4 linked regions of the Homo sapiens genome follow. The protein of the gene in region 1 purifies or fractionates together with the protein of each later gene. This does not show direct contact. Each region holds a gene or a part of one and is shown on either strand. Other genes may lie near its edges.

Evidence for each region. Proteins that work in one complex are often made in the same cells at the same time.
Region 2: the proteins of CALU (region 1) and TPM4 fractionate together in Homo sapiens (co-fractionation; one large-scale study listed by BioGRID). This does not show direct contact.
Region 3: the proteins of CALU (region 1) and SH3GLB2 fractionate together in Homo sapiens (co-fractionation; one large-scale study listed by BioGRID). This does not show direct contact.
Region 4: the proteins of CALU (region 1) and TRMT10A fractionate together in Homo sapiens (co-fractionation; one large-scale study listed by BioGRID). This does not show direct contact.

What each region holds. Positions count from the first base shown.
Region 1 is NC_000007.14:128,770,359-128,773,900, reverse strand, and holds the end of CALU (calumenin isoform a precursor), read right to left. Parts: 3' UTR 1,362-3,542; coding exon of another isoform or gene 1,242-1,361; 3' UTR 501-1,241; downstream 1-500. Other genes in the region: OPN1SW (short-wave-sensitive opsin 1), read left to right, coding at 13-252, 1,242-1,361. UniProt on the Homo sapiens protein: Involved in regulation of vitamin K-dependent carboxylation of multiple N-terminal glutamate residues. Seems to inhibit gamma-carboxylase GGCX. Binds 7 calcium ions with a low affinity.
Region 2 is NC_000019.10:16,086,495-16,089,994, reverse strand, and holds part of TPM4 (tropomyosin alpha-4 chain), read right to left. Parts: coding exon 3,455-3,500; intron 1,969-3,454; coding exon 1,898-1,968; intron 951-1,897; coding exon 875-950; intron 1-874. UniProt on the Homo sapiens protein: Binds to actin filaments in muscle and non-muscle cells. Plays a central role, in association with the troponin complex, in the calcium dependent regulation of vertebrate striated muscle contraction.
Region 3 is NC_000009.12:129,008,934-129,011,331, forward strand, and holds part of SH3GLB2 (endophilin-B2), read right to left. Parts: intron 1,833-2,398; coding exon of another isoform or gene 1,761-1,832; coding exon 1,737-1,760; intron 1,277-1,736; coding exon 1,187-1,276; intron 939-1,186; coding exon 838-938; intron 535-837; coding exon of another isoform or gene 520-534; intron 414-519; coding exon 173-413; intron 1-172.
Region 4 is NC_000004.12:99,557,540-99,561,039, forward strand, and holds part of TRMT10A (tRNA methyltransferase 10 homolog A), read right to left. Parts: intron 1,823-3,500; 5' UTR 1,800-1,822; coding exon 1,615-1,799; intron 673-1,614; coding exon 510-672; intron 1-509. UniProt on the Homo sapiens protein: S-adenosyl-L-methionine-dependent guanine N(1)-methyltransferase that catalyzes the formation of N(1)-methylguanine at position 9 (m1G9) in tRNAs. Probably not able to catalyze formation of N(1)-methyladenine at position 9 (m1A9) in tRNAs.

The DNA of each region.
Region 1 (3,542 bases):
GCTCCACCCCAGGTTGCAGCTCAGCAGCAGGAGTCAGCTACGACCCAGAAGGCTGAACGGGAGGTGAGCCGCATGGTGGTTGTGATGGTAGGATCCTTCTGTGTCTGCTACGTGCCCTACGCGGCCTTCGCCATGTACATGGTCAACAACCGTAACCATGGGCTGGACTTACGGCTTGTCACCATTCCTTCATTCTTCTCCAAGAGTGCTTGCATCTACAATCCCATCATCTACTGCTTCATGAATAAGCAGGTAAAGCTCTTTATTCACATTCCTATGGTCCAGAAGACCCTGGTTCTTTTCTCACCATTGACTTTTAACTCAGAGCACCCTGGACTCTACCCAGGTTTCTAGTAGACGAGGGAAGCCACAAAACCCCCGAGTAGGTTGGGAAGCCTTTGGTAAGCACAGGGAGGAAGGCACGGTTATCAAGACGAGAAAATAGAACCCCGGAGGAAAGAACTTGAGTCAGGAAAATGAAGTTGCTCCAAAGAACAGGATGAATGAAAGCATTTTATTGAAAAACTCGTGCAGCAAACCACCATGGCACACGTTTACCTATGTAACAAACCTGCACATCCTGCACATGTATCCTGGAACTTAAATAAAATTAAAAAAATAAAAATAAAAACTCAGATTCCTCTCAATTTTCAGTCCTTGCATTTAATAATTTCTTAATCATTTCCCTTCCAACTTTTAGCCTGCACGAGCATGTGTGAAGCACAGAAATCATACCACATGCAAAAATCTCTAAAATATCTTATCATCTGAAGGTACTGGGGGATTTCCTATCCCATCTGAAATCCGAGCTAATAAACACCAAACCCTAAGTGGCAAAAACCCTACTTTCAGATGGTATTGTTTCCTCAATCCCAGAGGTAGACTCAAAACTAATTTGAAACCTCCCTGGATAGAAGAGAATTGGCAGTCCTTTCCAGCTGGGAGCACCTGCTAGTAATGGAGGGGCCTCTGCTGACAGTGCTTTTATGAAGCAGGATGGTTTGTGAATTTACCAACAGTGAGGTCTCAGACTTGACCAGTTTAGGATTACCGTAGACCCAGGAGTAGTTCTAGACTGGAATCTAGATAGTTTTCAGGATGGGGAAGATAGATTCAAAACCACCTAAGGGCATTCTGGGTACAAAGCATTGTGCAAGGCTTTGGTGATACAGAGAATAAGGTCTTTTTTCCCATACTTCCTCATCTGCCAAGGTTATCTCCAATTGTACCTTTCTCTCCAGTTCCAAGCTTGCATCATGAAGATGGTGTGTGGGAAGGCCATGACAGATGAATCCGACACATGCAGCTCCCAGAAAACAGAAGTTTCTACTGTCTCGTCTACCCAAGTTGGCCCCAACTGAGGACCCAATATTGGCCTGTTTGCAACAGCTAGAATTAAATTTTACTTTTAAGTAAGTTTCTATTGTCTCCGTCAGAAACCAAACTACTAAAAACACAAAAAAGATGGTAAAAGGAGTGATGGCAGTTTGGGGAGTCAATTTTTCATTTTCTTACTATTGCCTTCTTGCCTACAAAGCTACTGTTTCCACTGGTCTATTTCAGACCACCCAAAGGCCATTTCAACAATCATCAGTTTCTACTCCTAAGTGGCACCATTCACAGCACTTGGAGAACTGATTTCTACATACAAGGCAACCAAAAAGGAATATGCTTTAAGTTTTCAGTGTATGGATACTTTCCTTTTTAGTAACTTTTTTTTTTTTTCCTGCTGGGGATCCATTCTGAGATGATATATGCTGAATTAGAACAAACTTAAGAAAACACTTTAGAAATGGGAGAGACATAAAGAAAAAACAAAACAAAACAAAAAAAAAAACAAAAAAAACTCAGTGGCCCCAAATATGAGTTTGAAAGAACTTTTGGATAACTGCTACAGCTTTGGCAGGAACAGCCATGTCCACAAGCCCCTGAGCAAGCACAAATTATTCCAGGTGCTTCCTCCCCGTTGCATTTGGCTAAACCTTTATATTTGTCTTAAACTGTGTGTTTACTAAAGTTAATAGTTTAATTCTCTCGAGGTTCTCAAAATGAATTTGCATGTTTTAATAACATTTGTAAACAATACCAAAATGTTAAACAAAATTGTTTTACCTTATGCTCTATAGATAAACGTGTGTGTACATTCAGAATCGCTTGTGTTTGGTATCAGATAATTATATAACGAGCAGCAGGTCTCTCCAGTTATACGGCCTAATGGAAGTAAAAAAGGGTTATGGCTGTGGTGAGAAGGATGCTAGAAAATACCAGAAAACAGGGAGAAAAGAATAATCATTTAGGAGAAGGCAGTGCTGTCTCTGAGTTTGGGAGAACTTCGAGGAGAGTTCCCATTCTGACATTTTAGAGCATCCATAATTCTAAGCTAGAGTTCTATTTCTTGGAAAATGAAGGTCATACATACCCCATAATGAATGTAAACAGTTTTATTTAGAAACAGATAGGTACCTGTTCGCATTGCAGAATATAAAACTTGGTTTACACTCTATAAAAAATAACCAATATCCAAATTCAAGAGAGCTAGCATTCACAGAACACACAATATGGGTGTGTAGCTACTGTTCACCAGCCTCAGGCTTGATTTAAACAAACAAACAAAAAAAAAATTTCAAAGGGATCATTCAAGATGACCGTATAATGCTTGCTGCTGTCTTTGCAGATTAAGGTTTGCTTTTCAAGTGCATGATTTTAACATAAGGCCTGGGCTCTCTGCACCTAGTGAGGTGTGAGGCTCTCTTGCCACACAGTTCACACTCTCACTTAACTAAGCCAGAGTTGGTGGCATTATTAAATTATCACTGGTCTTCTTAATAGTAAAAATGGGGAACCCAGAGGGCAGGAAATTTCCATTACCCTATATTGGGGCTAAACTTAAAAGAGTATATCCACTATCAAGAGCTTAGTACAAAGGCTGGGGTGAAGTTACATTATACCTGGCTTTTTACCATACCAGGGAGCCCACCTCAACATGACTGTGGAAGACCAAAGGATATACCTAGGTTCAGATTATAATAAATCACCCAGCACCACCTGAATGTATTATCCACAAAGATATAGCAATAATAAAGGTTATATATACATATATTTATCTTGGTAACCTGAGGGCTAAAAACGTGGAATACGATAATTCTTCTCAAGAGGTCCATCTGTAAGAAAGGGACCCAAAAGGACAGTGTTTGTGTTGCATAAAATATGGGTAAAGTGGAGTTGGGAACAAAGGGTGGTTTCTTTAGCTCTTTCCACATCTCTCTTTGATAAGGACTGAAACCCTGTTGATTCATGATAAACGTTTCCTTTTTTTTTTTTTTTGGCAGCGGGGAGAGGGAAAGAGGAGGAAATGGGGTGTGATGGGTCAAAGGCAGGAAAGGTAAGCCATGGTCCTCAAACCAAAGAGCCCTCTCTGTAGGTCCTCTGATCTTTGAGTGTGAGCTCAAGCTCTCCAGTGGACACAGAAAAAGGCCTGGTAGTAAGTGGTTTGCATTGTGAGGTATGAGGATCCCTGGTAAATTCAGCAGCATGTGGTTTTT
Region 2 (3,500 bases), on another chromosome or scaffold:
AGCGTGTAATCGGGAGGCTGAGGTGGGAGAATTGCTTGAACTTGGGAGTCGAAGGCTGCAGTAAGCTGAGATCACGCCACTTCACTCCAGCCTGGGTGACAGAGTGAGACCCTGTCTCAAAAAAAAAGAAAAGAAAAAAAAAGGCTGAATAGGGGTTTATCAAGCAAAAGGAAAGCCACACCCAGTTGAGTGAATAGCAGGTGGTGGCTGAGGTGGGAGGATCGCTTGAGCCTGGGAGTTCAAGGCTGCAATGAACTATGATCATGCCACTGAATTCCAGCCTGGGCAACAGAGCGAAGCTCTGTCTCAAAAAAAAAAAAAAAAAAGTGGGGGGTGGAGGTGATGGGAGAACAAAGAATGTCTGTGAAACTGCAAAAGCAGGAGCAAGAATGAGGAAGAGGCTGGGAAATTCAGTGGGGTTCGGCCGTGGAAGTGTGTCCTTTGTTCCCGACGTAGCTGCCACGTAGCAACTGCTTTGGGTGCTGTTTCAAACTAAAAAGCCCAATTCCACCTCTGATCATTGCTATACCTTTGAGATGGTATTTCTGGAGGAACCAGGGGAATCAGGTGAGAGGCAGGCTCTGTATTTATTTATACAACTATGCTCAGATCTCGCTAAGAAGAGCCTCATGTTCTATCTCTATCCTCCTGAGATGGAGATCAAAGATGGTGCTCAGACCCCATGGAAGAGGACTCAAGAGTGTGCAGGAGAAATCCAGCTCTTTCTGTAGGGGAAAAACCCTGGCTGCCAGGCACCAACGCTACTGTTAAATAAAGGGCAGATTCCCCATAACCTGACAGGCTCCTGCATCCCTCGGGAGAAGAAAAGAACAAAGTCCAGCAAGCCACCCTCCAGCTCAAGCCAACCACCTACCTTTTCAGATGCAGCCTCCAGAGATTTCAGATTGTTAGTAACATTCTTGAGTTCTTCTTCCAGGTCACCACATTTTCTGCACAAAGACAAAGGATTTTTGTGTCTTATCTTCCCTTACAGCCGGCAATAATAGCAATCGCCCCAACAATAAATTTTCCAAAGGAGAAACCTACACAGCTCCCCCGGTGGGGGGCAGAAGGAATGTGGGGAGAAAATGTTAATGGATTTTTCTGCAGTGTGATACTATGGGCTTATCAAAGGCTTATCATACCAGGCAGAGGCGAGGTGCGCCCGAAGAGTATTTGGAGGGCTTGGAAAACACTCCTGGTCTTTTGCCAAGGGTAAGGCTGCAAGGACTTGTGAAATCTATGATTGATGAGGCCGACTCCGGAAGGTGTAAGAATGGGACTGAGGGCAGAAGGCGGGCAGAGAGCAATGGGAGTTTGCAGGGGACACTCCGGGAAGGAAGCCCGGAGTGGATTTGTGAAACCAGATCTCTCTCAGCACTCCCGGATGCTCTGTGGGGCTGAATTCCTCACCCGGGGCCAAGAGGACAGGTGTTTTGTTTTTCGGTGCTTGCTTGTGGGATTCTGGTTAAGCTTCTCACCTTCCCGCCAGGAATGTGTCACGGCCAAACACTGACAGGAGCAAAAGCATTTACATACTGACCGGGGGAGCCTGCCTTCTGGAGCAGGTCAGTGTTCTGTTAAGATGGCACAGCCCCCTGAGATATCCTCTCTGGGAAAATGGGACTTCTGGGCTTCCCTGCTGCCTCCTGTCTCACTCCTATTTCCTCATATCTTTGCAGAAAGGGTCAACACGTGGGCAGTGCTTCCCATGGCAGTAAGAACAAGTCACCACCTCTTTGTCACAGAAGCCAAGAGAAAAGATGAGCCATGAGCCCCTGACGCCCGTCCACTTGAGCAGAGACCCCGGTCAGAGCCAATTCCCAACACAGCCAGCTCCTTCCCACTCCGCCCCAGGAATCGAGCCAGCCTCGCTCAGTCCTGTTCTGCCACTCACAGTTCAGACACCTCCGCACGCTCCTCTGCCCTCTCCAGCTCACCCTCCAGGATGACCAGCTTACGAGCTACCTGCAGAGACAGAAAGGCCCAGCTGAGCCCGATCCCCACCAGCCGTGTCCTCTCCCATCCACTGCAGACAGCCCCCAATGATGCCCCACCCAGACCCCTAGACCAGCTGCAACATGGGTTTTTCTGGTGTTTCTTTTTTTTGCAGGGGGACGGAGTCTCCCTCTGTTGCCCAGGCTGGAGTGCAGTGGCACAGTCTCGGCTCACTGCAACCTCCACCTCCTGGGTTCAAGCGATTCTCCTGCCTCAGCCTTCCAAGTAGCTGGGACTACAGGCGCGTGCCACCACGCCCAGCTAATTTTTGTATTTTCAGTCGAGATGGGGTTTCACCGTAGTGGCCAGGCTGGTCTCGAATTCCTGACCTCCTGATCCACCTACCTCGGCCTCCCAGAGTGCTGGGATTATAGGCATGAGCCACCACACCTGGCCTCTTTTTTATTTTTTTATTCTTTTGAGACAGAGTCTCGCTCCATCACCCAGGCTGAAATGCAGTGGCTCAACCTTGACTCACTGCAACCTCTGCCTCCTGGGTTCAAGTGAATCTCCTGTCTCAGCCTTCCAAATAGCTGGGCTTACAGGCATGCACGACCATGCCCGGCTAATTTTTGTATTTTTTGTAGAGACAGGGTTTCACCACGTTGGCCAGGCTGGTCATGAACTCCTGACCTCAGGTGATCTGCCTGCCTTGGCCTCCCAAAGTGCTGGGATTACCGGCGTGAGCCACCATGCCCAGCCCTTTTATGTTTTTGACAGAGGGTCTTGCTCTGTCTCCAAGGCTGGAGTGCAGTGGCGTGGTCAGAGCTCACTGCAGCCTTGACTTCCCAGGTTCAAGCGATCCTCCTGCCTCAGCCTCCCAAGTAGCTGGGACTACAGGTGCATGCCACCACACCCAGCTAATTATTATTATTATTATTTTTAGAAATGGGGTCTCACTATGTTGCCCAGGCTGGTCTCAAACTCCTGGCCTCAGGTGATCCTCCCGCCTCGGTCGAAGTGCTGGGGTTACAGGTACGAGCCACCGCGCCTGGCCTTTTGCTGGCGCTTCAACTGAAAGAGCCATCCTGGGGCCTGGAGGAAATCCTGATTCTCTTCCTCAAGCCTGAGGAGCGAGGCAGACAAGAGGCGGGAGGGAAGAGCCGAGCCATCGAGGGAGGCAAAGGAGGGCCTGAGCTTGCATGGTCTGAAACTCCATGGCTTGGGACCACAATCCTCCATTTTTGCCCAACTGTGCCAAAACTCCCAGCTAACGACACAAGTGAGCTGATCATTCGGTTTTCCCATTACGTTAGACAAGCGTCCGCAGCACTTTCTGGCATCGTGGGAGATAGTTTCCTAGCCAAGTGGTTGTCTCTGGACAAACATATGTTCACGCAGGAGGACAGCTGACCTAACCGAGAGCTTCCTTTCGTTGGCCCCGGTGTCCTCCCTATCTCAGCAGATGCATTTCCTCCCACTTCCTGCTGCTGCGCCATCTGCCAGCCCCACTCACCTCCTCGTATTTGCGGTCAGCCTCTTCCGCAATGTGCTTGGCCTCT
Region 3 (2,398 bases), on another chromosome or scaffold:
CCAGAGACCCAGCAGAGCAAGGATCCTTTCCTCAGAGCTGGATATGCCCTCTTTAACCTGCTGGTCCCCACTTTGCCAACAGGGCCCCTCCAGGCCCCATGTGCCTGATCCCAGTGCCCAGGCTGCTCCTCACCCAGCCCATTCCTGCCCCACCTTGCGGCACCGGGCCCACCTCATCAGCCAGCAGGGCCAGCTCACTGCTGTCGGCTGCCTCGTAGTCATAGAGCACCCGAGCTTTGCGGGTCCCACTGGCAGGGGGGGCCACCTCTTCCAGGCAGAGCGAGGCCTCCCCCGGAGGGGCCAGGCTGGCCACAGAGGGCACCACAGGCATAGTGGCCGCAGCAGTGGTGGGTGAGGTGCTGCTCAGGGGTGGGGAGGCGGGCTCTGTGGTGCCCACGAAGGTGCCGGGAAATCTGGAGAGGAGGGATACATCTTAGCAGGTGGGAGTCCCAGAAGGGACCCCAGAGGCAAACTCCCCTCCCCAGCCCCAGGAGCCCCACTCCAGCCCCGGCTACTCACATGGCACCCTGGGAGCTGGCAGCACAAAGGGAAAAGCAAAGCAAGGGAAGGGTGAGATGGCCCCACCCCCTGGTCCCTGCCATCCTCCCCACCCAGGCATTCCCTAGAAACCCTCAGGGGCTCCAGGGGACTTGGCCGTCAGTAAGGCCAGCCACTCCACCCTCATACACATGAGATGCCCGCACCCAGAGTGGGTTCCAGCAGAGCCCTCCAACCCAGCTTTGTGTCACAGGACTTGCCCAGAGGAGCTCATGCTGCCCACGGACAGGGTATGGGAGCCAGGGGGCCCCAGTGGGTTCAGCAGTGCTGGCCCCGCACCTGCCCAGCTGCTTCTGCAAGTCCAGCATGTGGCGGTAGCACTGTGCGTAGTAGGTTGTCTGAGACTTGACGAACTCGTGGAGGCAGCGCAGGTGGTTCACCTGCGGGGAAGAGGCCAGAGGCTGACTTCTAACCTCCCGCCCTCAGAACAAAAAATTCCGTCCCCATCCCCGTCCTCTACCAGACCTTGCTCCGGCATTCCAGGGTGCCCTGCCCCTGCGCCCACACCCTCCCCGGTGGGACTTGCTCTGTGAGGGCCATTCTGGGGCAGCCCTGCTGACCTTGTGGTTCAGGCACACCTGGTGCCTGCTGAGGGTTAGGTTTAGTGAGGGTGGGCAGTGGGACTCACGTGAGTGCTACTGATTCCCTCCAGCAAGAGACGGGTCACTTCTGCTTGCCGGTCAAACTCTGTCTGGGCCACGCGGAGCTCCTGCTCGGCCTGGGCAGGGCAGGGCAGCCATGAGCACCCACACACCACCCACCAGCTTCCCCGCAGTCTTCTCCTGGAGCCTACCTGGGAGCCGCCTGTCCCTTTCCCCTGGGAACACAGAGAGCCTTCTGGGTCTATGCCTGACTTCACACCTGGAGCCCCAACCCCAGAGAAGCTAGAGCCCCACTCAGGACCCCACAGGCAGCTGCAGTGACAGACCCTTCCTCCATCACCCATCGGAGAAATCCACCCAGCAAGTGCATCCTGAGGGCCTACTGTGTGCTACAGGGTACTGTGGAGAAAACATTTCCCCACAGAGGGGAAACTGAGGCCCAGGGAGGGAAAGCAGTAACCCCTCCCCAGTGGGTGTGGGGCAGAGTGAGAAACAGATCAGACCCCACAGCAGCAAGTGTGCCTGCACCCCGCCACCCCTTCTTCCTCGAGCCCAGCCCCCCAGGCCCCAACTTACCTTGTCCACTTCATCATTCCAGAGCTGTGGAGACGGCAGCAGGAGTGGCCAGCAGGGGAGGGGAGAGGAGGACAGCTGGACCCTAGAGCCTGTGCCCTGCCCCAGCTCCCAGACTCAACTTCTGCCCCCCTGCCCCTCTGCCCCCCCTCCCAAACAGGAGCTGAGACTGGGCCGAGGCCCGGCATGGGAGCTGGGGGCTGGCGGTCCCAGTCCCTCTAACATGCCTCATGCAGGAGGGGAGCAGCCAGCAGGAGTCCTGCTTATATTTCTCCTACAGTGTCAGCCCCATTCTCTGAGTGGGGTCTCAAGAGAGACGGAGTGTCCCCACCCCATCCTGACTGCTGGCTCAGGCTGCTGGGCTGGGCGGCAGAACTGTGTGACCCTGGGCCAGTCACTGAAGCTTTCTGTCCTCTGGCAGAGAAAGGTGGCCTCGTGCTTGAGTCACACTGGGACTCAATGGCAAAAGAAAAACAGGGCAGTCTCCACCCTCTAGGATGTTTCTCCTTCCACTGGGCACAGGGAGGAGGCGGGAAGTGGCATCCAGACCCTGAAGAAGAAAGACGCTGCCCGGCCACGACCAGGAGACCCAGCGCTCCTGCCGCTTCCGGAGATCTGACCCGAGACAACAGCCTGAAATAGGGAATGCGGACCCAGGCCAGTGT
Region 4 (3,500 bases), on another chromosome or scaffold:
AAATGCATTCTGATAAATGTTATTTGATTTCCTTACATACTAGCAAAATTACTGTAAGTTAATGCTCTGTAAGTGACCCATTATTTCATATTTTGTATTTATTTAAAATGCTAGTTCATGAAAACGGCTACTCTCTAAAGAGACAACAACAAGACTTTTAGAGCCATACTATTACTATTTTCATGTTTTACCAACAACACTGGTAAAACCCCACAGATCTTTATGATCAATAAGTAGTTAATTTAGTTCTGTCATCTAGACTACAAAGTGTGTGTTTGTCTCTCTTTCCTGTCTGCACACATACTGACACACACACATACACACATATATAAATACACATATTTATTATATCAATGCAATTTGCTAGCTAATTTAACTTAGGGGAAAGTTTGAAAAACTGAAGATTCATTTCAATACACAAATTTACATAAAAGGGATATTGCATATTAAAACAAAAATGATTCGACCTAATTCACATACAAGATTTTTCTGACAATGATTCATGATACCTTTAATACCATCAAGTGATCAAAACTACAGTCAATAATAAGGCGAAGGGTGCTATGAACAACATCTCTTCGAACACGTTTTCTGTCATGTCCATCTGAGTTTGGTTCCATTTGACATTGTCGCTCTAATTTTTTCCTCTTGCGTTTTTCTTTTCGCTTTTGTCTAAAATTAGTAATTGAAATAACATTTTGTTATTGTGTATTCAGTTATTTACAAGACTCTTCTAAATAAACAATTCCTTTTAAAAATCATCAGGTTAAATCATATGAAATTGTCACTTCTGTGACCATTCAAAAATGGTCAAGTATTAGCAGTTTTATACAACCCATCTAAAAGCTTCAGATAGGAAGGAAATGAGCTTCCAAAAATGATCTAAAGCTTTCTATCTAAATCCTAACTATACTATCTGAATAGTTTCATTTGTTATTGGTATCATACTATCCCTAACCTTATAAATACTGAGTTTGAGTTATGACGAATTTTATTTTCATAATTTACCTATATGATTTTTAAGCCACATTTATAAGGTATAGAAAAAAGCAAAATAAAATTGTTCATTAAAAAAATTACATACTTTTTCTCTAATTTACACCAACTACAGTTTATTTTCTCTCCATAAATTTTGGCATTTATTACAACGACAAATTTAGCCAAACTGCTTTCACCAAAACCTGCAACAGTTCTTGTGGCAAAATCAATGTCAGGCCAAAACTTGATCTTTCTGAGTTGGCTGTTTTTATTCCATAACTAGCACACAGACACTAATTACATCCCTTATCTAAGTCAGTTGTTTCAAAAATTGTGCTGCTACTCATAATAAGGTTCTGCATTAGAAAAAGTGTTGAGTGCAAGATCATCAACAGTGCTAAAAGAAACCCAAACAATTTTAAAAAATAGTTTTAACAGCCAGTTGACAGTGTTAGCTAACAATATACGTTGTTAGCTTCAATTTTCTTCTCTTGCGTTTTTCTTTACGCTTTTGTCTAAAATTAGTAATTGAATTTTAAGTAACACAATTACATTTAATATGCCAAAGGGCTATGCAAGGTTTAACATTGCATATCTCTAAATAGGAAGAGAGCATATACATTTTGAAACACATACTTGCGGAGTTCCCGTTGCTCTTCCCATTGTTTCTGTTTTATTAGTTTTTTCATTTGTCGTTTAGATATTGGTTCACACCCTTCACCTAATCTTGGCTTCTGGCTCTCCTCTTGATCTTCATTTATGCCTTGCTTTTTGTCAACATTAGAAGTTTCAATAAATGCTGGCAACATTTCAGATGACATTATTTGGTGCCTCTGAAAAACAACTTTTGACATGAATAGATAATTTACAAGCACAAAAAAGTTAAAAAACTCAAATAATCAATATGATTAAAGTTAAACCATAAAATAATATAAATAAAACTTTAGACAAATAAATGTCATTTAATTGTAAATATCATTTAAATACCATTTAATATCAATTAAATATTCAGCAATGCTAGTAAAGGTCTAAAGAAATGGGGTGTTTCATATACTACTGGTGGTCATGGTACAATTTTTCCAGAAGGCAACACATATATATGTTTTAAGAGCTTCAAAATCTCTATTTAGACACCCTTTGACTCAGTATTTCCTTAAATTTCTGTAAATAAATCAGAAATGCACACAAAAATGTGCACAAGAGTATATGCAATGCAGTGTTATTTTTAACAGTGAAAAGTTAGAAACCTCCTGAATGTCAGTGAAAGGAAACTAAACAATTACGGTTAATCTATAACATGGGCAAGGAATATTAAGCAGCCAGAAAAACTTATATATCCAAAAATATTTAATGATAAGGGGAAACGGTTATACATTAAACAAAATCAAAGAAAACAATATATACATTACGACCAACTTTTTTAAAAAGGTATACACACACACGTTTAATTCTTACCCACAGTTTTCTGCATTTTCTAAAGTTATATAATGAAAATATATTGTTTTTAATAAAACAAAAAATTTTAAAAAGAGATGAAAAGCATCTTTTCTATAGTCTTTTTTAATGCTGTAGAATGAGGGAAACTACAAAAAGACAGAACTGATTTTTAAAACTGAAATCAATAACCAAGAAATAAATTCACTTGATACAAATTAAAAATAGGGCAATCAAAATGACTTTAAAATAAATTTGGCTGAAATATTTCAGAGAGGTCATAAGGGAATAAGAAGTATAAGAACAAGACAGAAAGTTGTGATATAAAAGCAGGCTTTACTAAAAAGTAAAACAAGAATCAGTGAAAAAGAACAGAATCAGTGAAAAAGAATCTGTGAAAACTAGGAAATGAAGACATAAAAAGTTCAATAGAAGAGACAAACTCCAGATTATCTGGAGTCCCAAGAAGTAACTGATGACTTAGAAGACAATCTGACTCAGGATGCAGACACAAATAGAACAGAAAAATAATATGGAGGAGCAGTAAAGACTTGGATAACAGAATAAGAGAGATACAGGAAAAAAAGGTAATTAGAGATAAACATATAGCCTTGAATGCATTCATTAATTTTTTTAAAAAAAATCTAGAAAGTAAGGTAAGCATTCAATTTAAGAAACTGGAGGTGGGGAAACTGAATAAGCCTAAAAAGGCTAGATGGAAAAAAATTAAAAAATATGTATTTTGATCCCCTGGATCACTTTTATTTTCCTTTCTTGCAATACACAATACATTAAATAAAATTCAGCTATGCAGGTATCCAAAACGACACCGAGTGGAGGAAACTTAAAAGCACAATTAAAATTCACAGGAAACAAATTGCTCTCTTCATGAAATAATAATATTCCAAGAGAGTACATTTCTGTTTATCAGTGGCATCATTTTCAGTTAGTTCTCTATTTTATTCAAAAACGGCATGTGTTGATTAGCTCTATGTGAAGATTTTTTTTTTTTTTTTGGAGACAGAGTCTTGCTCTGTCACCCAGGCTGGAGTGCAGTGGCGCGATCTCCGTTCACTGCAACCTCCGCC